Homo sapiens: one gene and its partners. The protein of the gene in region 4 interacts with the protein of the main gene of each other region in a biochemical or structural test. Each region holds a gene or a part of one and is shown on either strand. Other genes may lie near its edges.

What was found.
Region 1: the proteins of ERBB4 (region 4) and ITCH form a complex in vitro, tested with the Homo sapiens proteins (2 studies listed by BioGRID, with this or other methods).
Region 2: the proteins of ERBB4 (region 4) and RASA1 form a complex in vitro, tested with the Homo sapiens proteins (2 studies listed by BioGRID and IntAct, with this or other methods).
Region 3: the proteins of ERBB4 (region 4) and SYK form a complex in vitro, tested with the Homo sapiens proteins (2 studies listed by BioGRID and IntAct, with this or other methods).

The regions. Positions count from the first base shown.
Region 1 is NC_000020.11:34,506,266-34,512,309, forward strand, and holds the end of ITCH (E3 ubiquitin-protein ligase Itchy homolog), read left to right. Parts: intron 1-1,429; coding exon 1,430-1,529; 3' UTR 1,530-5,508; downstream 5,509-6,044. UniProt on the Homo sapiens protein: Acts as an Acts as an E3 ubiquitin-protein ligase which accepts ubiquitin from an E2 ubiquitin-conjugating enzyme in the form of a thioester and then directly transfers the ubiquitin to targeted substrates.
Region 2 is NC_000005.10:87,368,858-87,375,900, forward strand, and holds part of RASA1 (ras GTPase-activating protein 1), read left to right. Parts: intron 1-955; coding exon 956-1,043; intron 1,044-3,260; coding exon 3,261-3,338; intron 3,339-5,305; coding exon 5,306-5,463; intron 5,464-5,982; coding exon 5,983-6,059; intron 6,060-7,043. UniProt on the Homo sapiens protein: Inhibitory regulator of the Ras-cyclic AMP pathway. Stimulates the GTPase of normal but not oncogenic Ras p21; this stimulation may be further increased in the presence of NCK1.
Region 3 is NC_000009.12:90,895,779-90,899,052, reverse strand, and holds the end of SYK (tyrosine-protein kinase SYK), read right to left. Parts: 3' UTR 504-3,274; downstream 1-503. UniProt on the Homo sapiens protein: Non-receptor tyrosine kinase which mediates signal transduction downstream of a variety of transmembrane receptors including classical immunoreceptors like the B-cell receptor (BCR).
Region 4 is NC_000002.12:211,415,761-211,422,803, reverse strand, and holds part of ERBB4 (receptor tyrosine-protein kinase erbB-4 isoform JM-a/CYT-1 precursor), read left to right. Parts: intron 1-699; coding exon 700-797; intron 798-2,192; coding exon 2,193-2,363; intron 2,364-7,043. UniProt on the Homo sapiens protein: Tyrosine-protein kinase that plays an essential role as cell surface receptor for neuregulins and EGF family members and regulates development of the heart, the central nervous system and the mammary gland, gene transcription, cell proliferation, differentiation, migration and apoptosis.

The DNA of each region.
Region 1 (6,044 bases), on a different chromosome or scaffold from region 4:
GTTGCTCAGGCTGGTCTCGACCTCTTGAGCTCAAGCAATACTCCTGCTTTGACCTCCCAAAGTGCTGGAATTACAGGCCATCATGCCAGACCTAAAACATTTTTCATCTTGTAAAATTGAAATGGTACCCATTAAAGCAGGGGTCCCCAACTCCTGGTCCCCAGCCTGTTAGGAACTGGGCTGCACAGCAGGAGGTAAGTGGAGGGTGAATGAGCATTACCTGCTGAGCTCCACCACTTGTCAGATCAGCAGAGGCATTAGATTCTCATAGGAGCAATAACTATTGTGAACTGTGCATGTGAGGGATCTAGATTGTGCATTCCTTACGAGAATCTAACCTGAGGTGGAACAGTTTCATCCTGAAACCATCCCCCTCTCCACTCCTGTCCATGGAAAAATTGTCTTCCACAAAACCATTGCCTGGTGCCAAAAAGGCTGGAGACTGCTGCTTTAAACAATGACTCCCCATGACTCCCTTTCCCCAGGTCCTGGCAAACATCATTCTACTACTGTTTCTATGATTCTTTAGTACTTCGTAAGTGTAGAATCGTACCTTATTTGTCCTTTCCTGGCTGGCTTATTTCACTTAGAATAATATCTTTAATTTTCATCCATGTTGTAGCATGTGTCAGCATTTCCTCCTTTTTAATGCTGAATAATATTTGATAGTCTGGATATACTACATTTTGTTTATACATTCATCTGTCCATGGACACTTAGATTATTTCCACCTTTTGGCTGTTTATGCTGCTATAAACATAGGTATACTGTGGTAGAATATAGATATATCTGTCCATGGCCCTGCTTTCAGTTGTTTTGGGTATATACCCAGAGGTGGAATTCCTTGATCATGTAGTAATTCTATTTTTAATTTTTTGGGGGAATCTCGCCATACTGTTTTCCATAGTGACTACACTGCGTTATATTCCTACCTGTAGTGCAGAGGGGCTCCAATTTCTCCACATCCTCACATCCTTTTCAACTCTTGTTTTCTTCTGTTTTTTTTTTTTTTTTTTTTTTTTTTGGTTGTTGTTGTTGTTGTTTTGGTGTTTTAAATAATAGCCATCCCAACAGGTGTGAAGTGGTATCTCATTGTGGTTTTTATTTGCATGGTAAAGGATGTTGAGCATTTTTTTAATGTGCTTATTGGTCATTTGTATGTCTTTGGAGAAATCTCTATCCTTTGTTCATTTTTAAATATTGTTGAGTTTTAAGTTTTTTATATATTTTGGATACCAGTCCTTTATCAGATATATGATTTACAAATATTTTTTCCCATTTTTGGGTTATTTCACTTTCTTGATGGTATCCTTTGAAGCACAGTAGTATATTTTTGTGCTTCTATAGTAGTGTATAAAGTAGTATACTACACTACTCATTTGATTCTTTGCATATTTCCTTTTCTCAAACTAACAATTCTTGCTTTTAGTTTTAATCGCCTGGACCTGCCACCATACAAGAGCTATGAGCAACTGAAGGAAAAGCTGTTGTTTGCCATAGAAGAAACAGAAGGATTTGGACAAGAGTAACTTCTGAGAACTTGCACCATGAATGGGCAAGAACTTATTTGCAATGTTTGTCCTTCTCTGCCTGTTGCACATCTTGTAAAATTGGACAATGGCTCTTTAGAGAGTTATCTGAGTGTAAGTAAATTAATGTTCTCATTTAGATTTATCTCCCAGTGATTTCTACTCAGCGTTTCCAGAAATCAGGTCTGCAAATGACTAGTCAGAACCTTGCTTAACATGAGATTTTAACACAACAATGAAATTTGCCTTGTCTTATTCCACTAGTTTATTCCTTTAACAACAATATTTTATGTGTGTCAAAAGTCTCACTTGGGAGTAGTGTTTTTTTCTTTTAGACATTCTGCAGACATGCAGGGAAGTCCTTTGGTAACTGCAATATACAAGATTTTCCTATTAAGCCTCTTGGTAAGAGGCATTTGTTAAAAGTGCAAGCTTACTCCTGCTTCTGGGGATGTGAGCAAAATTCGGGCTTGTGTTCTCCCTCTCATTTTAGTCTGACTTGACTATTGTTTTTCCTTTCTGGCGCATGAATCCATACATCATTCCTGGAAGTGAGGCAAGACTCTTGCATCTCTACAAAGTAGTTTTGTCAATTTGAATTCAGGGAAAAGTTGGTCACAGCCTGCAAATGACTTCATTTGGAAGTCTGATTGTTTCAGTTGCCTGACAAATACTACACTTTACAAACAATGTTAACACTGTGATTCCTTCATTGTTTTAAGAAGTTAACCTAGGGCCGGGCATGGTGGCTCATACCTGTAATCCTAGCACTCTGGGAGGCCGAGGCAGGAGGATCCCTTTAGCCCAGGAGTTAAAGACCAGCCTGGGCAACATAGGGAGACCCTGTCTTTTTTTTGGGCAGCGTGGTGGGGGATAAATAAATAAAAGGAAAAAAAACTTAGCCTAGAATTAGAATTAATTTAATTGAATTCATCTAAAGATGTCTCTGGTGATTTTTATATGTTCCGCTATATAATTGATGCTTTATAGTTTTATCATAATCCAACAACTTCAGTTATATTTAATTATTGTTAAGGAGTTTAAGACTAGAAAGACTAGAGTGCTTTCTAGTCCAAATAGAGGTCAGTGAAACAGCTTTTGACATCAGATTTTCATTTGAGAGGGAGAGCTGTGGTACTGGCTAAAAAGAAAGGAAGATAACATCCAGTAACCACAGGAATATATTCTCTGTGAATTAAAAGTCTTCAAAGTTATCATTTCTCTGACATATGTTGGAGTAGTCATTTCCATTCTTTACATTGTCATGAACTGGATTGATAACCCTCATCTGCAATATTTTCACCCCTAAAATTTTTAACAGGGTTTCCTTTTTTTCTCACGACTATTTAAGTTTAGATTGCTCCATTATTAACTGATTAATGCACTTTGAAGTTCTCTGGAATTAATTATTTTAACTTGGCCTAGCTTCGACTGTCAAGGTGGCTGTTATAAATTTGACTTCATTGGCAGTGGATGAAGCCTAAGCCAGCTGAGTCTCTATCATAGCTGAACCCTGAGGACAGCCTCATAGCTCATGTATCAGGGACTTTTGCCACATTTCAGAGGCATAGCATGAACAAGTAATATTAAGCCAAGAATAAGCAGCAGAACCCTGTTCCATATGGAAAAAAGAAAAACAATTTTTTGTCCCTAATGTTCTTCCTTTTACATCCTGGAACAACAATAAAAACATTTTTTTAAACTTGTCTACTGTAAGATACTGCCATCATAAAGCAGAGACTTACATGAGTGAAAGGGTTGCCTCATCAAGCAGCTCAGTGTAAATGGGGAGGCTAGGCTCTCCCCAGCCCTATGGTTTTTTTATTTCATGTACCCCAGGAAATACTGTGTGGTTTCTAAAAGCCCTGGTTGTTAAAAGTAGGGACTCTGCCTTTTTGTTGGTAGGGAGAAAAAACGCTATTGCTTTGTCTTACAGAGCGAATGTCTGCCAACTACCCGTTCATTATATAAGTCTGAACTTGGTAATATATGGCTAATGAAGATTAAGCCCTCTATAAAGACTTCCTGTTGAGGTGAATTCTCATACTGAAATGTAGTTACCTACAATATTTACTAGAGATTTATGAAATTAAATTAAGAGATAATGTAAGAAAATACATTTTTTTGGTTCTATATAATGCTTCATGATTCATTTAGGGACCTAGAAATATTGTGTGAAAATATATAAATATCACCCAAAAGGCTTTCTGCCCTATATTTTTAAAATACAGAATAGTTATATTTGAAGTAGCCCTGGCCCTAGTTCTATAGGGCTTGGCTATTTAATATTTTTATGGAAGAAGTGTTTAGTTCTGGAAAAGGTAAATGCTTGTATATATTTTTGCAGCCTGGGATCTCCCTACTCCATTTTTTCCTTTAATTTAAGTGGCCACATGTATATGTCTTCCCTGCTGTGTTAGGAAAATGGGGGCTGGATATCCCAAGAATCAGAGGTTATATAAAAATACTGCAAATAGACCGCAGACATAAATATCTACCAAATGCTATCTTAAATTTTGGTCCAAACTGAACATATGGAAATAGATTTATTGTAAGTATTTACTTAGAGCTTTTTCTTAAATCTGAACTAACTTGCTTTTAGAAGTCTTTTTCTTTGTAAGCATTGTAAATGCTAATAAATCCTGTTAATTTTTTTTTTTTTTTTTTTTTTTTTTTACTGCATGTTACATTGAAATAAAAACAAAGTAAAATGAGCAATTGCCTTATTGTTCTGCTCTTTTGCAGGGGGTGGGGGTTGGGGAAGACAGCATTCCACAGCCTGGTCAGGAGGGAAGGACCTCACTTGTTTCATCAAATGGAGTGGTTTAAAACTGATCAAGCAGCTCATAATAATGAATTCCTGCTCTGTCTTTTATTATCTTATGTCAGAGTGCAGCAAAATCTCATTTCATAAGACTTACAATAACTCTATTTAAAATTCAGGTATTGTACTCGGGAGGCTGAGGTGGGAGGATCCCAGGAGTTCAAATCCTGCCTGGGCAACATAGCAAGACCCTGTCTCTTAAAAAAACAAAAAGACATATTCAGGTACTGATTTTTCATCAAGAGATTGACATACCAATGATCAGAAATTTTAGTGAAACTTGACTCAACTATACACAAAGTTCTCATCCTAAATGAACTATTTCAGTCAAGCCCACTCTACCACTTTTTACTTATCTGGTTAATAATCCGAAATGTTACCGGGGTTGACTCACGGAATTAAATTTTTCCTCTATTTTTATATCCTTTCCTGTTGTGGATGTAACTTACCTTTCTAAACTCCTTTAGAGTTAACGACTTCTATTTAGTATTGTTGGTATCTCCAGCCCCCCTCCTTTTTTTGTTTTTCTTTTAGTTATTTACTTTGTTTGTATAATTTGCTTTCATTAACTAAAAATGGAATTGGCAGCACTGGATTGTATATTACTGTATTAAGAGTACCTTTGTTTTCTTGATCTGTTACTTTTAATACTCAGGTAATGCTACAAATATTACAGGGAGTCAAATGCTTTTATAAAGTTCCTTCAGTGGTTGCCTCACTTGCGTTTTCCTACAAGATGTAAGACTGTTTATAATTAAACTTTTTTGGTCCTTCATTTGCATGCTTTTCTATCAGTCTTGGGTAAGGAGGGGTCTCTTTCCTCTCTCCCCGGCCCCACCTTCTGAGACTTATATGTGACCAGGTCACATAGATTTCTGCCTCTCTGCTTTTTTAAGTGGCAAGTTACAGCCCATCTGGATTGTGGTATTGTTCCCAGACCAAATCAAGGGTTGGACTGCTTATTCTCGCAGCCCAATAATGAGGTGCAGATGAACTGAGAAAGGAGGGAGTTTATTTCTGTAACCAGGTATGGGGAGAAAGCCTGGAAATGATCCCAAGACCAACTCAAAACTACAAAGTTTTCCAGAGCTTATTTACATTATAAGCTATATGTCTACATGTGAGTGTACATTCATCTAAAGACATAAGTGATTCACTTTTTTAAATCTATAAATAAGATCTGAGCCCTGAAGACCTTCCTCTGGAGCCTCAGTAAATTTACTTAATCTAAATGGGTCCAGGTGCTGGGGTGATTACCCTTATCTTGTTTCCTGCTAAATCATGGAGGTTTGGGGACTTCCTTCAGACCCCCAGTAAACTTGTTTGTGGAGGCCTTCAGACCCCCTCAATAAGTTCCTTCAGACCCCCAATAAAACTTGTTTAATCCTAAATGGGTTCCTTTGTTATCTTGTCATGCTTCAAGGCCCAGAAAAGGCCTGGGCAAAACCCTTGGTGGCCTTTTGTTACATTCTAGCCTTTGCATAAGGGCCCTCACTCTTTCAGCTTTTAATATTTAACTTAACCACTCAGTGCTGAAACAGTTGTTATGGAGGCCTGCGTTATTGAGATCTGGCCTGCCACGGTACGGGTAGAAAAAAACTAGAAAGAGCTGTTGCAGATGAGACTGGATTTGGTGCCCATGTTGAAGATGAAGATATCTGCAGGGGCCATCAACCAACATAAAGGCCTCC
Region 2 (7,043 bases), on a different chromosome or scaffold from region 4:
TTGTTCTCCAGTGCTTTCAAACAGTTGTTTTTCTGTTTTGTATTACTATTTTAAGTTTTATCCAACTAGGGTGGTTAGTCTGATACAGGCAACATTTAGGATTAGAAGTTTCCAATTCCTATTTTCCATGATTACTTTTAAGACATTCTCAAAGCATGAAAATATAGTCTTTATCTTTAATAAGTGTTAAGCTTGTCCTCTGTGTATTTTTGCTATGGCCTCCTAACATTAGCATGATATAAAATCTTTAAAGCAGGAAACAGAAGTAACATTTATTGAGTTCCAAAAACATGCAGGCCCTTAATAAAGATTTTACCAATATTTTCAAGTCTAGTTGGAAAGATAGCACATTTCCAAAATGATATAAATTATTACCTAATATTGTACTTACATATCAAATGATTTGAAATAATACTAAAGGAAGACAAGAACATTTGTTGTACACAACTGTTCACTTAAACTCTAGAACAAGCATATGTATGAAGAGATGATGTTTCCATTTTAACAGGTGAAGAAAAATGATCAGTTTAGAAAAATTTGAAAATACAGAATCACCTACAATCTCCTTAGAGATAATTACTTAGAACATTTTTGGTCTAAGAACATTTCTAGTCTTTTTCCAGTGCATATAAAGCTTTTCAAATTAGCTGTGTGCAGTTCTAGCAGTTCAGCTTCAATCTGTTTGTAACTTTATTTCTAATGTATTTTACAATTAATTGAAATTTCTTTAGTTTACACTTTGAAATACTGATAACATTTTAATAGTGCTGACATAAAGTTTTCTAAAATATATATAGCTGACTTTTTTTTAGTAATGATCTGGTACAATGGAGTATTATTTCTTTAAGAATTATAATTTTATGTTAATTATTTATTGTGAGTGTTTTGGAAGCTGGTATAAATATTTTGCTACTTTTTATTAAGCTTCCTAATAATTTTTGTTTTTATTTTAAAGGCCAAACTGTTTTCAGATAGTAGTTCAGCACTTTAGTGAAGAACATTACATCTTTTACTTTGCAGGAGAAACTCCAGAACAAGCAGAGGTAAGATTACTGTTTCTCAAACTACAGTATACTTTTATGTTAGCCCATGTTTTCTTATTAACTGGAATAGAAAATGATCGCATTCAAGATAAAGTGACAGAACGCCTGAAATCTAATCATCTCTTATTTTAAGGAATGAGATTTCATATGTAAAAAGTTTTCTGAAAGAAATGCAAAAACAAACACAGTGAAGGGTTATTAGGAATGAAAACTCCATTTTAAATTGACCTTTAAATACTCTATGATGTTGAGGCCAACTGAGAATGCTCATTTAAAATCCTCTCTGCATAAAGGTTATAGGTCATCTCAGTATAATCCAAAGGTAAGCCAGTTAACCAGTTAGTTTTGCTAACAAGCATTATTCTTCACTGGTTGAACTCCATGTCTGAAAATAAAAGTCAGTCAACACAAGGAAAGATATTTTAGGAATCTATTCTCTAAGCCAAGTCGAGATATAATGTCTACTTTAGATTAGCTATTAATCCATGTGCAGTGTCCTTCTTATAGCGTCTATTAAGTAATTGTGTGAAGAAATAATATTTTTTAAAAAACACTCTTTAAAAAATATTTTGCAACAAAGGGAGAACCCACCTCTATAACAAAAGTAAAAAATTAGCTAGGTGTTCTGGCTTATGCCTGTAGTCCCAGCCACTGGGTAGAATGAGGCAGGAAGATTGCATTAGCACAGGAGTTTGAGTTACAGTGAGTAAGATCGAGACACTGTAAGCCAGCCTAGGCAACAAACTGAGACACTGTCTCTTAAAAAATTTTTTTGCTTTCTTTGAACCCTAATATTTCTGGAGTATATGGTTGTATTTTATACAAATACAGCTAAATTTCTGCTTATATTCTAACGAAGGAACTTAAAGGTGGTTAAGAAGTGAAAGTGGCTTTGTTGGAAATATAATTTGCCAACCCTAGATATGAGGAAGATGCTCTTAAAACTAGATCCTAGCGTGAGACTCACAGAATAAACCTGAATGAGCTTACAACTGAACGTCATATTTCACATCTTTATCAAATATCTCATTTAATGCTCATTTCACATGTAATGCACATAAAATTTTACGGCTATGTATCCCTAATTTTTAGATGAGAAAGGTAGTGCTCAAAACATTTTGGTAACTTACATGATTTTTTTAAATGTTAGAAATTGAGTTAGAAATTTAAACTTCAGTATCCTATTTTCTAAGTATTTTACCATGGTCCCTCTTTCTGAATAAAATGTCACATACCATAATGACATTTCAGCATGTTTTGCAAGCCTAACATAGAACATTTTTTAATGTATTTATACATAATATTTCTGTATTTCCATAAATGGTATTTCCAGTTTTTGTTGATTTATTGGGCTGTGGGGGTCTCTGGTTATTCTCTTCTATTTCAAAAAGCTATGGTAACTGATTTGGTTTTAATTTGCTGTAATATAAAGACAGTCTCTAGATATTAATAAAGTTCAGCTTCATTGAAATAGCCAACAAACTAAAGACATAATTGAATAAAGCAATAGTACACAGCTTTCCAGAAATATGTAAAAACCAAAGTGAATATTTAGATTTGTTTTTAATAAACCTTAGTTCTCTCCTTTTCCCCAAAGCACTAGATAAACATTTTAAAAATATGGCTGCAATTTGATTTGAATATTAGGCTAAAATGATTTTTAAAATCTAATGTTATATTTGAGAAGCTTAAAAATAACCCAAATCCCCTTATACATTTCTACCTGTATCATGGTCTAAAGTATAGATTAATATGCTTGTCATGGGATCGGTCATCACATTATCAGTTGGTTTTACAATCAGCACTCTCCCCCTCTCACAAAGTGTATCAAGTTAAATTCCACCTAAGCTTGCCTCAAGTATAACAGCTTAATTATACAGTTAATTTCCCCAAGGTAGTATCTGTTTGGGAGAAATAGTTTCTTTAATGTAAATTTGATTTTTTGGCTAATTAATGGCCACTCGATGTGTTTCATACATAAATTCAAACAAAGATTTATACAGAATTACAATTGTTTTGGTTGTTTTATTATTGTTATTGTTATGTTATTGTTATTTTATTATTGGTTATTGTTATGAAGTACAGTATAGTCTGAGAATAGAAATGGCAGTCTAGAGAAGGAAAAAATTGTTGAATTTGAAAAAAAAAACCTAACTGATGATTTGGAAGCCAAATAAACTAGTGTATATTTCTTTGAAGTGCTGTTTTTCTTTGCAGGATTGGATGAAAGGTCTGCAGGCATTTTGCAATTTACGGAAAAGTAGTCCAGGGACATCCAATAAACGCCTTCGTCAGGTGAAGCTTAATTTTCTTGGATTTTTAATTGTCACATTTTGCTCTAACACTTTGCTCTTTTTATTTTATTTTTATCTGAACTGTTTTGGACATCATATGGGGTTAAGCCATGCTGCCACTTGCTTCAGTAGCAGGAAAACGTTACTTCTTTATGAAAGAGAATGTTCTTTCTTAGTCCATGCCAACTGTTAAAAACATAAGAAAGATTATTCTTCCACTTTAAATAACAACACTAAACCAACACAGCAGAAACGGTTCTGTTGGGCACTTAATTTTCCTTCAAAAACTTATTTTGGCCTCTTTCAAAAAAGTAGAACATTGAAAAGATCATCAGATTTATAGCACTAATCCCAATAAACTTTTTTGGGATTTTCATTTTGAAGAACAGCTTTTAAAACCTACTGCTTAACTCTTAGGAAATATTTAATCTTATTTGAAACTGTAACATGCCCTATACTTTGAGATTTGTGGAGAGTTAAGCTAGGCTTTCTCTTTTTTTTGCCTTTACAAGGGTAACTTTATAACCTCCATTTCTTGGCTTTTTTCTTTTTAGTAATCCCTGTATAATTGGAAGAAGTTAGGCAAATTTTGACATTCTCAAGGTTTAAAGAAAGTTTAGTACAATATTTATTTACTAACCAAAGTGTCTCCTGTTCTCTTTGTGCGAATATCTGATAAGCTGAGTGATTAACATACTGTTCTACTGGGAGTGGATAATGGTTGATATTTAGGTGACTAAATAGTCCCTGTAACCCAAAGTCTGGCTCTTCCCCAGGGAAATTTAAGTATACACACAATCGCCATGTCTTCATAACATTGTAACATTTTGTAAGCTATCAAAAATCAGATTGGATTTTTGCTAATAAGAGCAAGTTGTATTTTGTGTGAAACTTGAGCCATTAAAATGACATTTGCAGGTTTAATATAATCATAGCTAACATCTCTCAAGCACTTTTTATGTATCAGTGGGCAGTGTGATTTAGTGATTTACATATACTGTCAGCCCTTTCTATTCATGGGTTCTGCATCAGTGGACTCTACCAACCATGGGTCGAAAAAATACAATAAAAAGATACAGTATAACAACTATGTACATAGCATTCACATTGTATTAGGTATTACAAGTAATCTAGAGATGATTTACGGCATACAGGGGGGCATGCATAGATTTTATGCAGATACTATGTCATTTTCTATACGGGACTTGAGCATCTTGGGCTTCGTTAGCTGCCAGGACAGAGAGGTGGAGGGTCTTGGAATCAGTCCCCCACAGATACTGAGGGATAACTAGTTTGTAATACTTATTACAACCTGTAGTGTAGACTTTATACTTACATATTAGAAAGATGAGGCTTAGAGGGACGGATTTGTGCAAGGCCACACAAGTAGTATATGGCAAGAGAGAAAGAGAACCTGATACTAGAAGGTGGATGGTCTAAGTTTTGGCATCCAAACTAACAAATAACTTAGTTTCTTTAGGTTTGTATCCTTTCCTGTAAAATAAGAAGGTAAAGTCAGTGTTTTAAAAATTTTTAGCTGTGGAACTCTTTTATAGAAATAGAATCTTCCAGATAAGTATTATATAACATACGGGATTTTAATTTGAGTAGTGACAGTTGTTTACTTATATTAATAAAGAATTTTCTTCTTAACTTCATTTTCTCTTTATCATTGTTTTATGGTAGAAAAGGTGTATTTCATTATTTCTCCAGGAATATACTGGGAGAAATAACTTGTAAAATAAAATTGCATTGTTTTTATCTTTTAGGTGGGAAGAATTATTTTAAATGTCTGAATGTTTTAAGTATGTCATATACAAATATATAACCAAAGCTCACATTTTCTGAAAAAAAAGGGGAAAATAAGTCATTATTTTTGGCTTTGTATCTTAGAGTAATTGCTTTTGAAATGTAGTGCAATTCTAGAAATCTGGGGTAATATATATATATATATTTTTTTTTTTTTAGGTCAGCAGCCTTGTTTTACATATTGAAGAAGCCCATAAACTCCCAGTAAAACATTTTACTAATCCATATTGTAACATCTACCTGAATAGTGTCCAAGTAGCAAAAACTCATGCAAGGGAAGGGCAAAACCCAGTATGGTCAGAAGAGTTTGTCTTTGAGTAAGTCTTATTTTATCATTACATTAATCATTTTCTTTTACCATATTGCATTTCTTTCTGTTTTTTTGGTCTCTGTATCTAAACCATCAGAACAAGGTACCATATCCAGGTGTTCTAATAGCATATATATATATATATATTTTTTTTTTTTTTTTCTGTTGTTTGTTCACCTTTATTTGTGAAGTGCTATGCCCTTGGTTTTTCCACTTAGTTATTAACATGAATTAGCAAGTCAAAAAACATTTACTAACCCACAAATACAAAACATTTACTAGGGTTTCCAGTACTTATTTGAATGAATTATTAGTTTAGGAGGTTAAAGATGGTAGGAAAAGTGTGTAATCTGCGTGTCTTCTGTATACCAAATAATAAAATATGTTGTGAATCTGGTTTTAGGTCTAGCACACTGTTTTTTTTTTTAAAGCAGAAATAGGGGGTTTATTTGATACTAGAACTAAAGAAATAAGGTAGTTTGATGCCAAAACATTTTGTTAATTCTTTTTCTCCTTGCTCCTTTAGTGATCTTCCTCCTGACATCAATAGATTTGAAATAACTCTTAGTAATAAAACAAAGAAAAGCAAAGATCCTGATATCTGTAAGTTGATACAGAAACTTTCTAAAATAGAAAAAGCATGTTTTATATACTTTCAAAATTCACAATGAAAGTCTTAAAATAGAAATTAAAAAAACAGAAATGCAAGTAGTATAATTTGAGATAGTTTCTTTCTGTACTTCTTAAAGTATTGATTATCAAGAAAGAATATACCTAAGATAGAAAAAGACCAATATGGTTCAACTGTACACACTGTTAAGCAATTAAGATTAAAATATTTAGCCACCCTCCTTTCTCCAATGAATAGGAAGAATAAGGAAATGATTACAGTGGTCTTTTTGTAGGGCTTGCCCTCATCCCTTCTTTCTACTTTTTAGGTTTTTCCTGCTTTTTTTTTTCTTTTGAGATGGAGTCTTGCTCTTGTTGCTCAGGCTGCAGTGCAGTGGTGTGATCTCGGCTCACTGCAACCTCCGCCTCCCAGGTTCAAGCAATTCTCCTGCCTCAGCCTCCTGAGTATCTGGGACTACAGGCGCCCGCCACCATACCTGGCTAAGTTTTGTATTTTTAGTAGAGACGGGGTTTCAGCATGTTGGCCAGGCTGGTTTCAAACTCCTGACCTCAGGTGATCTGCCGGCCTCGGCCTCCCAAAATGCTGGGATTACATTACCATATAAGTAAAAAAGTATTCTATTTAAAAATTTCCCTTAAACTTGAATGTCATTTATTCTATTTAAAAATTTCCCTTAAACTTGAATATGTCACTTATTCACTTCTGGTAGTCAAAGGCTCCCAGTTCCTGTCCTCAGCAGCACAGCTCCTTCCATCCTGCTGCTAAAACAGTTGACAGTGAGATTTACCAGTTCACATCAGGGTGAATTAGGTTAATACCTTCTTAAAACTCAGGCTTAGGGAAGGAAGTGATATGTATTAACAGATCAAAGCCTGAATATTTCTCTATAAAATGTTTATTCTGTAGTTTTTTGTAGTAATTTTAGTTTTCCATTACTTTTACGATAAAATCCAAAC
Region 3 (3,274 bases), on a different chromosome or scaffold from region 4:
CCCTCCCTGATGGGCCTCCCCGCCGTTCTGTGTGGTGGAATCTCACAGTCAACTTTGACCTGTGCACATCCACTTTTTTTTTTGAGATAGGATCTTGCTCTGTCACCCAGCTGGGAGTGCAGTGGTGCCATCACAGCTCATTTCAGCCTCGACCTCCCAGGCTCAAGCAATCTTCCTGCCCCAGCCTCCCAAGTAGCTGGGACTACAGGTGCATACCACCACACCCGGCTAATGTTTTGATTTCTGCAGAGCTAAAGTCTTACTATGTTGTCCAGGCTGGTCTCAAACTCTGGGCTCAAGAGATCCTCCTGCCTTGGGCTCCCAAACTGCTGGGATTACAGGCATGAGCCACTGCACCCGGCCAACACATTCACTTTTTTGGGACATGGCAGGGACTTAATGTTTTAGAAAACATTTAGCTACCCCTTTGACAATGCTGCTTGACACTATTTGACAGTGTGACTTACCACATCCTAATAACTTCCATGAAAATCATCACAAAGCAAATTTTAAATTTTTATTAAAAATCACAGTTTTTAAAAATGTCCAGTGACACAATGTAGCTCTTCTGAAATGAATGGAAAACACAACACACTGCTAACCAGTGGAGGGAGCTCTCTGCAGGGCTGGGAGACCTGACAATGCAGCTGTAGCCTCTGCAAGTGAAAATCCAGGCCGACTTGCAGTCATTGGACTGATGTCCAAGTGCAATCACCATACAGCAGCTACAGGCAGGGCTGGCTGATAGGGAGTATGGGAGAAGGACACGCTCAGATGAAAACATGCATGCAACGATTTTCACCACTGAACACACTGTTTTCTGTGATAGAAACTGTCGGCCCTGCTGGGGGACAAGATATTCACGGCCTCACTAGCCAGTGTGATGCCACCAGGGCAGCCTGCCCCTGATGCTCCTTTGTTACCTGCTAAAGAAGGACCATAAGGTAAAAGGCACCTTACCTTATGGAGTGAGCCCAGACCCCAGGGAAAAGCTTGGGTAGAACAATCCAAGGGGCAGCCTGGGTATGAGAATCCAGCCCAAGCTAGCTGCTCTAGAAGCCTGGAGGCCTTTCCCAGCTTCCCAAATGTAGCCCTTTTCACATGACCAATCCTTCAATTAGGTTACCTTTCTCTATTTGCCCTCCTTGGTGGCTACAGGGGAAAGGATAATTATTCCTGACCACAAGACACATTTTCACTAGAAAAGACTTCCTCGTGCTGGCCACAGTGGGAATTCTGCACACAGGTGCCTGCTCCACCAAGCAGAGAGGCTCAGGAGATTGTCCAGGGACAAGGAGACCTGGCCGGACCTCTGCAGGGAGGTGAGGCCCCTGCCCCCATCTTGTCCCATCACATTCTGGATGTTTGGCATCCCCAGGCTCCTGGGAGGGGAGAAGTGCTGATAAAAAGGCCAAAAATCACACAGAAAGAAGACAGAAAACTCCACGCACTTCCTACATAGGTGCTACCGTATTCCTACGAGCACGGGGCCTGTGTTGAAGACTCCCTCTGGAAGTTACAGAAGGAAGCCACCAAGAGTTCAGCCTCACAGCCTCTTTCTCAGATGCAGTCACCACTTTACCAAACTTGGCACATCCAACCACTCCTTTCATAATTTTACACCTGTTTGTGGCCTGGCTGACAGATATTTTGTCATTGATCTTTCTAATTTCAGGGATTCTAAATGTGTTTTGAGAATCTGCTCAGCACTCAGGGATTCTGTCTTTAAAAATATGATTAAACCACCAGATAGTGTGATTTCAGAAAGTGTGCGTGGCTACCAAAAACTTCTAAACACAAGTTATATGAGTGACTCCTGTCTTCTGTGGCTGAGCTTGGGTACTGATTGTCTTTCTCCATGCCTTGCATCCCCTGTTAGAGGAGGGCCTGCTGTCCATGGCTGTCCATGCACTTTAAAATGTCTCAGGTTTAGCTGAAGACCAGATGGGTCCAAGTTTATTTATATCTGCTGGCATAAGAATGATGGCTAAATTACCTCTTTAAGTTGTTTTTTTGTTTGTTTGTTTTGACAGAGTCTCGCTGTGATGCCCAAGCTGGAGTGCAGTGGCATGATCTTGGCTCACTGCGACCTCCGTTTCCTGGGTTCAAGCGATTCTCCTGCCTCAGCCTCCCGAGTAGCTGGGACTACAGACACATGCCACCATGCCCGGCTAATTTTTGTATTTTTAGTAGAGATGGGGTTTTACCATATTGGCCAGGCTAGTCTCAAACTCCTTACCTCAAGTGATCCACCCGCCTCGGCCTCCTAAAGTGCTGAGATGTCTCTTTAACTTTCAAGAGGTACAGCAAAACTGAAATCAATGGGTGATGACTTCTTAAAGATCAAACATGAAGATGAGGATTAGTTAAGACCAGAAAATCATTCTCCGATCTTGTATCTTCAACTCAAATTCACACTCCAAAAGGCCTGTTTGTGGTGAGGCTCAGGGTCTTTGGCTTGTTCTGAATTAATACTTTCTTTGGAAACTCTTTAGATGGCTTTGATCCCTGTGCTGCCCCCCATTGCAGACACAGAAAGCGACAGGGGATTCTGGCGGCACCCTCTCTGTGGAGGAGAGGAAGGTGTGGACCACGTTCAGAGGAAGGCAGCCTGAAGCTGTCCTCAGTGAGATGCTGGGGGATGGGCCTCTTGCCCCTGCTGTGCAGCCTCCATGCAGGGCTTTATTTACCAGTCACCAGGTCTTCAAGACAGTCTGCAGGAGAGAGGATTTCAGGGGGAAAGTAAGCCAAGCCAATTCATTCTCATGGTCCCCTTTTATCACAAACATGTAAGTCTTCCATCTCATAACAGAGACAGCAAAAGCAGTATCCAGGCCTTTTTTTTTTTTCTTTCTTTCTTTCCTTAACTGGCTACATGCTTAGAAACTGCACTGGTCAAACTTGATTTTCTTTTTAAAGCCTCAAAACATTTTTATTGTCAGGAAAGCTTTTCAGTGGCCAGGGATCAGTCTCATGGCCGTAGAAGCAGCCAAATTCCTCTGCCTTTGCCTTCCCTTCAGGAGTCACATGCTAAGGCATCCTTGGGCATTTGGAAAAGGCCGCTTGGGGTGAGAGTGCTCTAGGCCACTCTGCAATGTCCCTGGGCCCGATGAGTAACAAATGCACCCCGGGACCCAGAGAAGTGGAAAGACATGAAAGGGATTTGGAAACAGATCGTAAAAATAACCTGTATGAAAATCACACAGACAAGAAAACAAACAAATCCAGCTAGCCCCTTGGATCCTGCCATCCGTCTTTTCTCCCGGGACTGCCT
Region 4 (7,043 bases):
ATGTAAAACCAAGAAAACACTTTCCCTAATGGAGAATTTTACCTTTCTTTCGGGGTTTTAATACCTAAGAAGAGGATAATTTGGCAAGAAAATCAAGGAAAGCTTGATACTTTTATTCTTGTCATCTCATTAGCTAAACAGAGCCTGTAGAGATAAGGTCTGCTTTATCTAGACTCCCAGCTAAATAAGAATACATACCTTGAAAATTGCTGATAGTATTTTTATACTAGACAAGCTAGTACTAAGATAAGCTAATGTCTATTGCTGAACAGGCATTACCAATCACTTTGCATTAGTTTTTTTTTTTTTTTTTTTGTCCACCAGGACAAATGTAGCACAAGAAAGTTGCTTTTAATTCCTCTTTTCCCGTTTGTGCCAGTGTAAGCATTGTAACCAAATCTTCTCTCCTATGTCACTCCTAATACAAAATAATAACTTATATTGCAGTCACGTCTATACACATCAGAGAAAAAATTTATCTTTTGTTTTACAGTACATTACATTTAGTTATGAATATCAACAAAGAGACCGATAAAGCCTTACCAATTGAGTCGTTTCTTTCACTAGCTTGCTTTCTTTCTCAGATCATTACGATTAAAACAACATTTTTCAAACTTTTGCTCATATTTTCACAAAATTTAAATTTCAACTCCTTTCTAGTTACGAATATAGTGACATTTTCACTGTGTAAATTTCCAGGTTGGATGATTGATGCTGACAGTAGACCTAAATTTAAGGAACTGGCTGCTGAGTTTTCAAGGATGGCTCGAGACCCTCAAAGATACCTAGTTATTCAGGTGAGTACATTTGACTTATGCCTTTAAGACTAGGCCAATGGCAAACTCACTGCAAAATGAGTAGTATCAGGACTTTGGAACTGTGGAAAGGACCACAAACATGTTGATTAATTAAGCAGAATTATCATGTGACATGACTTATGGAAAAGAGCTTTTTATTTCACGTCAGATCCACCTTTTAGCACCTTCCCTTAGTATTCAAGTGGCTCTGCTACTGAACAGATAATTATGATTATACATATACATAAAGAGGTCTTAATCCTCAGACACTTATTTTAGCACCTTGATTTTATTAACATTATGTGTAAGTCATGTTCATTAGTATAATTTTCTTTTTTCGGAACAAAAGGAAGACAGATTTTTGTTTTAATCTTGCCCATGCTTGAAGACAGTGAATCAAAAGTTTCAGTATATTATTTAATTTCCCCAAAAATATTTTAAAATATGTTTTGTTTTATTTGGAGAGATATGCAGTATCTAAGCAATAACTCAATTCAAATGAATTGATGCACATTTTAATCAACCAACCAAAGAAATATTTTATATTTAACACTAGAAAAATAGATAGACTTGGATAATTAAAAAATAATAATATATTTCTCTAGGATTAATTTCACCTAAACTCTAAACAAATGGGCCTTGGACTAGAGTGTATTATGTTTCCTCAGTAAAGCAAGGTAGCCTTTATTTTCATATCGACAGTCTGACATAAAGATAAAAGCTAGGTTTTAGAAGATACTTATTTCCATTTATTTTTTCCCCAAAATTAGTTTTCATGAACTGAAATTGTTTCCAAAAATTATGTAACTTTAAAAATATAGGAAAAATACTTAAGAAATAGACGAGGTGAGGAAGAGCATAACAAAGGTTTTGGTGTCTTTCTCATACTCCTTTACTCTATTTGCCACTTGCACTGTGAGTTTTGAATGCCCCTACTTTGATAATGCAGTCAGTATGCTATAGAATAAAGTATAGACCCTATGGTCCTGATAATCCTACAGCATCAAACCAACCAAATAAACGTTGATAAATTGATCACCTTTTATTGTTTATTCTTAAAGTTGCAACCCATACACTATCTGGGCAATGAACAATTATTTTCAGACCTGAAATTGATTTTACCTCCCTAAAAACATCTTTTGATTTTGCTTTATTATTCTCTAATGGCATTTATCATATTCTCCTTGTATAAAGTTTGTTTACCTGGCCCTATCATTTCTAAGCATGTTATAGGTTTCTTAATGGCCGGTGGTTGTGCTAAAGACTTGTTTTTTTAAAATGTGTGTATGAATTTTTCAACCATTTGTTATGATATTACATAAATTTATTGCAGAGACCACATATTTAAGATAAGAAAGAATCATATTTGTGTCTGATGGGCAATCTTTCTTTTAGGGTGATGATCGTATGAAGCTTCCCAGTCCAAATGACAGCAAGTTCTTTCAGAATCTCTTGGATGAAGAGGATTTGGAAGATATGATGGATGCTGAGGAGTACTTGGTCCCTCAGGCTTTCAACATCCCACCTCCCATCTATACTTCCAGAGCAAGAATTGACTCGAATAGGGTAAGAAATAATTATATACACATATCATATTCTTTCTGAGATATAAAATCATGTAATAGTTCATAAGCACTAACATTTCAAAATAATTATATAGCTCAAATCAATGTGATGCCTAGATTAAAAATATACCATACCCACAAAAGATGTGCCAATCTTGCTATATGTAGTTAATTTTGGAAGACAAGCATGGACAATACAACATGTACTCTGAAATACCTTCAAGATTTCAGAAGCAAAACATTTTCCTCATCTTAATTTATTTAAAACAAATCTTAACTTTAAAAAACAATTCCAACTAATAAAACCATTATGTGTATATAAATAAATGAAAATTCCTACCAAGTAGGCTTTCTACTTTTCTTTCTTAAAAAGATATTATGATATATTAGTCAAGAAGTAATACAAGTATAAATCTCTTTCACTTATTTAAGAAAAATTAAATATTTTCTGTCAAGTTGAAGTAGAAACACAGAAAACCGTGCAGTCCTTTGAACCTAATCACATCGAAAAGGCTGCTGAGAAGTAGATTTTTGTTTTTAAGAAGTAGATTTAAGTTTTGAAGGAAGTTTCTGAAAACACTTTACATTTTAAATGTTAAACCTACTCTATATGAATTCCATTCTTTCTTTGAAAGCTGTCAAATCCATGCATTTATTTTTATAAATTCATTCCTCATACATTCAACATATATTGAGTACCACTGTATGTGAAGCATTAGTATACATTTAAGACTCAAAGAATTTTGATACAACTTCTGCTTTCAAGAAGTGAAAACCTTAATCAAAGAATCATACAGATAGAGGGACTGCATAGTAAGTGCTGTAATCCAGTATTCACTGACCAGTACGGAGCATGAAGAAGTAGTAAATTTGTGTCTGTAATCAGTTTCTTCCATTGATAAGATATAAACATGATGCTTAATTTTTTCTAGAAGATAATTCTTTTCTCTTAATCTAAGAACATTATCATAGCTAGTAGAACCGACAGCATCCGATTTCTCTTGACCATAGCCATAAGAATATTTTCAACTTGCTGCTCATTATCTAACAAACATAATTTTCTTTATTTCATATTGATTGTAATAAGTAATATTCCCCTGGTGTTTACTATTCAACACATATATGTTAACCTCCTTAATCCTTAAACAAACTTCATGAGGTTCTATTATTATCATCCCCTTCTTTCAAAGGAAGAAACTTGCCACAGAGAAGTCAGGTGATATGACTGGTGTCACACAGCTAGTCAGTGGAAGAGAGGAATAATGTAATCTAGATATCTGCCTACTACACTGTAGGTTTGCTTCAAAGTTACTGAAGCATGTTATTTCCATGATGTGATTAGAGTCTGGGACTTGTCTTGTTTGGGAAATTTCCCAGGTGGTTTTCTTATAAAATGCATCTCAAATCTGCTCTACACCTTTTACTCATCTACCTCCATTTAGAAGATCTGATATGGAAAGAGACAAAGATGGAGACCTCAATTATTTTTTCTTTTCTGTTAAAAAATATTATAGTACAAACTGAAAACTTTATCACATGCCCAATGGGGAATAGATAACTAAAAGTTTTAAAAATTAGATCAATGGATAGGTAATGAATAATCAGTCTTTTGCTTGTGAGAGGGGAAGAAAGCGGTTAAGGTGTATAAAGGAGGCTCTCTGTACACTTTGCAAAATGATCAAATTATATACCCTTGTATTTATAATTTTAAGTGACAAATTCATTACTTCTGGTTACAACAGTGAAATTTAAAAAAAAATAGTTTTTCTTTCTTAGCTTGCAATGCTATAAATCTTTTTCTTTTTATAAGAATTCTTACATTTCAGCTTTTTGTTCATTTTAATTTATAATTCTCAGTGCAAGAAATTCTTAATAAAGGTTTGAGCTAGCTAGATGGAATTATTGAGACAAAGTCTAAATCACCCGTGGACTTATTTGACCTTTAGCCATCATTTCTTATTCCACATTATAAAACAATGTTACCTGTAGATTTCTTTTTACTTTTTCAGTCCTTGGAAAAGAAATGGTGATTAAATATCATTGTATCATTTTATGTTCAGGCATTTAAAAAGCTTTATTTGTCATCTATATTGTCCTAATAGTTTTCAGTCTGGCTTTACGTAACTTTTACGGAAATTTCTAACATGTACAAATGCCATGTTCCTCCTTTCTTTCCTACATGGCTGAATTAGAAAACAAATTACTTCCATTTTAAGTTTGGCTAAATTAGAAAACAAATTACTACCATTTTAAGTTTGGTGGCTAAATAACGTGCTAAGGGAACATCTTAAAAGTGAATTTTGATCAAATATTTCTTAAGCATATGTGATAGACTTTGAAACCAAAAAAAAAAAAAATAATGCATTTTGAAAATATAGGCTCCACTGCGCACTAATTAAGAAACTTTAGGTAATGTTCTGAATATCTCTATGACTTTGTTTCCTCATTTTCTAAATGCTATATTGCCTATCTTATATGAGTGTTAGGCAATTAACTTTAAAAAATTGCAGAGTATTTATAATGCCAGGTAAACAAATTTTATTACTCTACTTTTAGAATCATCAATTTCACTTTTCATTTTTACCATTTCCATTTTTACCTTTTTCCTTGTCAATATCATATATCATAAATAATCACACTTTCTTATAAGGTGCTCTACCCACTATCTATGAAAAGCTTGTTGATGCAATTACTGCTTGGCCAGCAAATTATTTCTGCTGATGTGTTCTAATATCAAATAAAGACAGAAGTAATTTTTTATAGTGCTTTTGATTTTTTCAATTCCACAAATATTTTGATAAATTACAACTTTAAAGCAATGAATCAATTCAAAATACAATGTTTATATTTGTCCAGAAAGTTGATGAATACAAATTTAAGTCATGCTAGAAAACACTTACCTAATTTACAGCTGCTGTTACTATTGTTAGATATACTTTTAATATTACCTTAAAATTTTTTCTTTTTTGAGACAGGATCTCACTCTGTCACCCAGGCTGGAGTGCAGTAGCACGATCTTGGCTCAGTGCAACCTCCACATGCCAAGCTCAGGAGATCCTCCCATCTCTGCCTCCAGAGTAGCACCACAGGTGCATGCCACCCTGCCCAGCTAATTTTTTTTTATATTTTTTTGTAGAGACAGGGTTTCCTTATGTTGCCAAGGCTACTCTTGAACTCCAGAGCTCAAGCAATCCACCCACCGTGGCCTCCCAAAGTGCTGAGATTACAAGTGTGAGCCACCATGCCTGGCCTCAAATCTTTTTAAGCAATAATACACCAAAAGCTATTTTACTCTAGCGTGATGTAAAAATAGGAGAAAATGAGAAGCTATTTAACTTCTGCAAACCGTGCTCTATATCTGTAAAATGGGGATTTAAAAATTTTCTCACGGAATATTATGAAGATTACCTTTTTAGTGTATGCATGCACGTTACCTATTAATGGACCTGGAATAGATGCTCCAATAGTGTGGAAATAAATGAATATTAACCAAACGAAAAAAGCAAAGAGTATTTATTCAGAGACTGCTATAGCAAGAAAGTCAGCTCCATCAGTTACATTTTGGCAGAGACTTAAAGGCCCGCAGAGGAGTGGGAAAGCTGTGTAGGGTTAAAAAAAAAAAAAAAAAGGGAAGGCTTCATCTATGCCCTCATTAGAGACTGTTGGCCTGGGGAAGCTATAGGCAGGATAACTAGAAGCCATTGGTTAGAGGTGCATGTTTGACTTTTTTCTGTTGGTCTGAAGTTGGAAGCAAGGACAAAAATTAGGAAAGCTGCCAGTTATTAATCAATTCTGGTCATTTGGAGCTGATTGTTATACAAGTAATTGTGTAGCTTCCTGGGTTGTTACTAGAGATAGCAATCTGACTTCCTGCAAATCTGATTTACAAAAGGCTGGTTTGCTGGGCTGTTTATTGTAGATAAGGAGGTTTGCTTCCCAATTTGTTTCTATTTTTACATATGGTCAGGCCATTGTCCCTTTGTATATTCAGTCTATTGGATTTAGTTTCCATTGCGGCCTTCTTTTCTCTAGATATTTAAACACATGCTGCCTAATATTTTCGATTACATGTTCAGCATAATTTAAAAATTCTCCATAGGTTTTTTTTCTTTCTTTTTTGTTACAATGGCTAAGTTTGGTCTTTTGAGTTACCTAGAATTATATTTTTTTGATATAATAAATTGTATATTAAATGAAATAGCAATGAATAAAAATAGTGAATAAACTGATGTGGCTGAAGATATTTTAGCTTTAATGATATTAGAAAATTTAATTTAATGTAAAAGCTTCCATGTATTTTTATAGAGGAAGACATAGTTTCAATTGCAAGCCCATCCAGTCATTTGTAAGCAATAGTTTTAAGATTAAATGCTCCTCTGTCAAAACATATCAGCTAACTCTTAATTATCTCAGCCAGTGGAAGACAGAGAAATTGTAGCTACTCCACATTAGTGAAGTGAGTAACCCGCAATGGATTTATCATCACAATGTAACTTCTTTTTCCCTTCTTTTCTATCTGCTAAGAAGTAACTTTATTAAATAGATTTATTTGCATTTTCCTCTTCCTCTTACACGCTTTCTCCCAGAATAGATATATAAATAAACTGAAAAATAAAATGTAAGCAGAAGTGAAGAAGAATGAAGAAAATTAAAGAAGTTTGGTATCTCAAAAATTTGATCA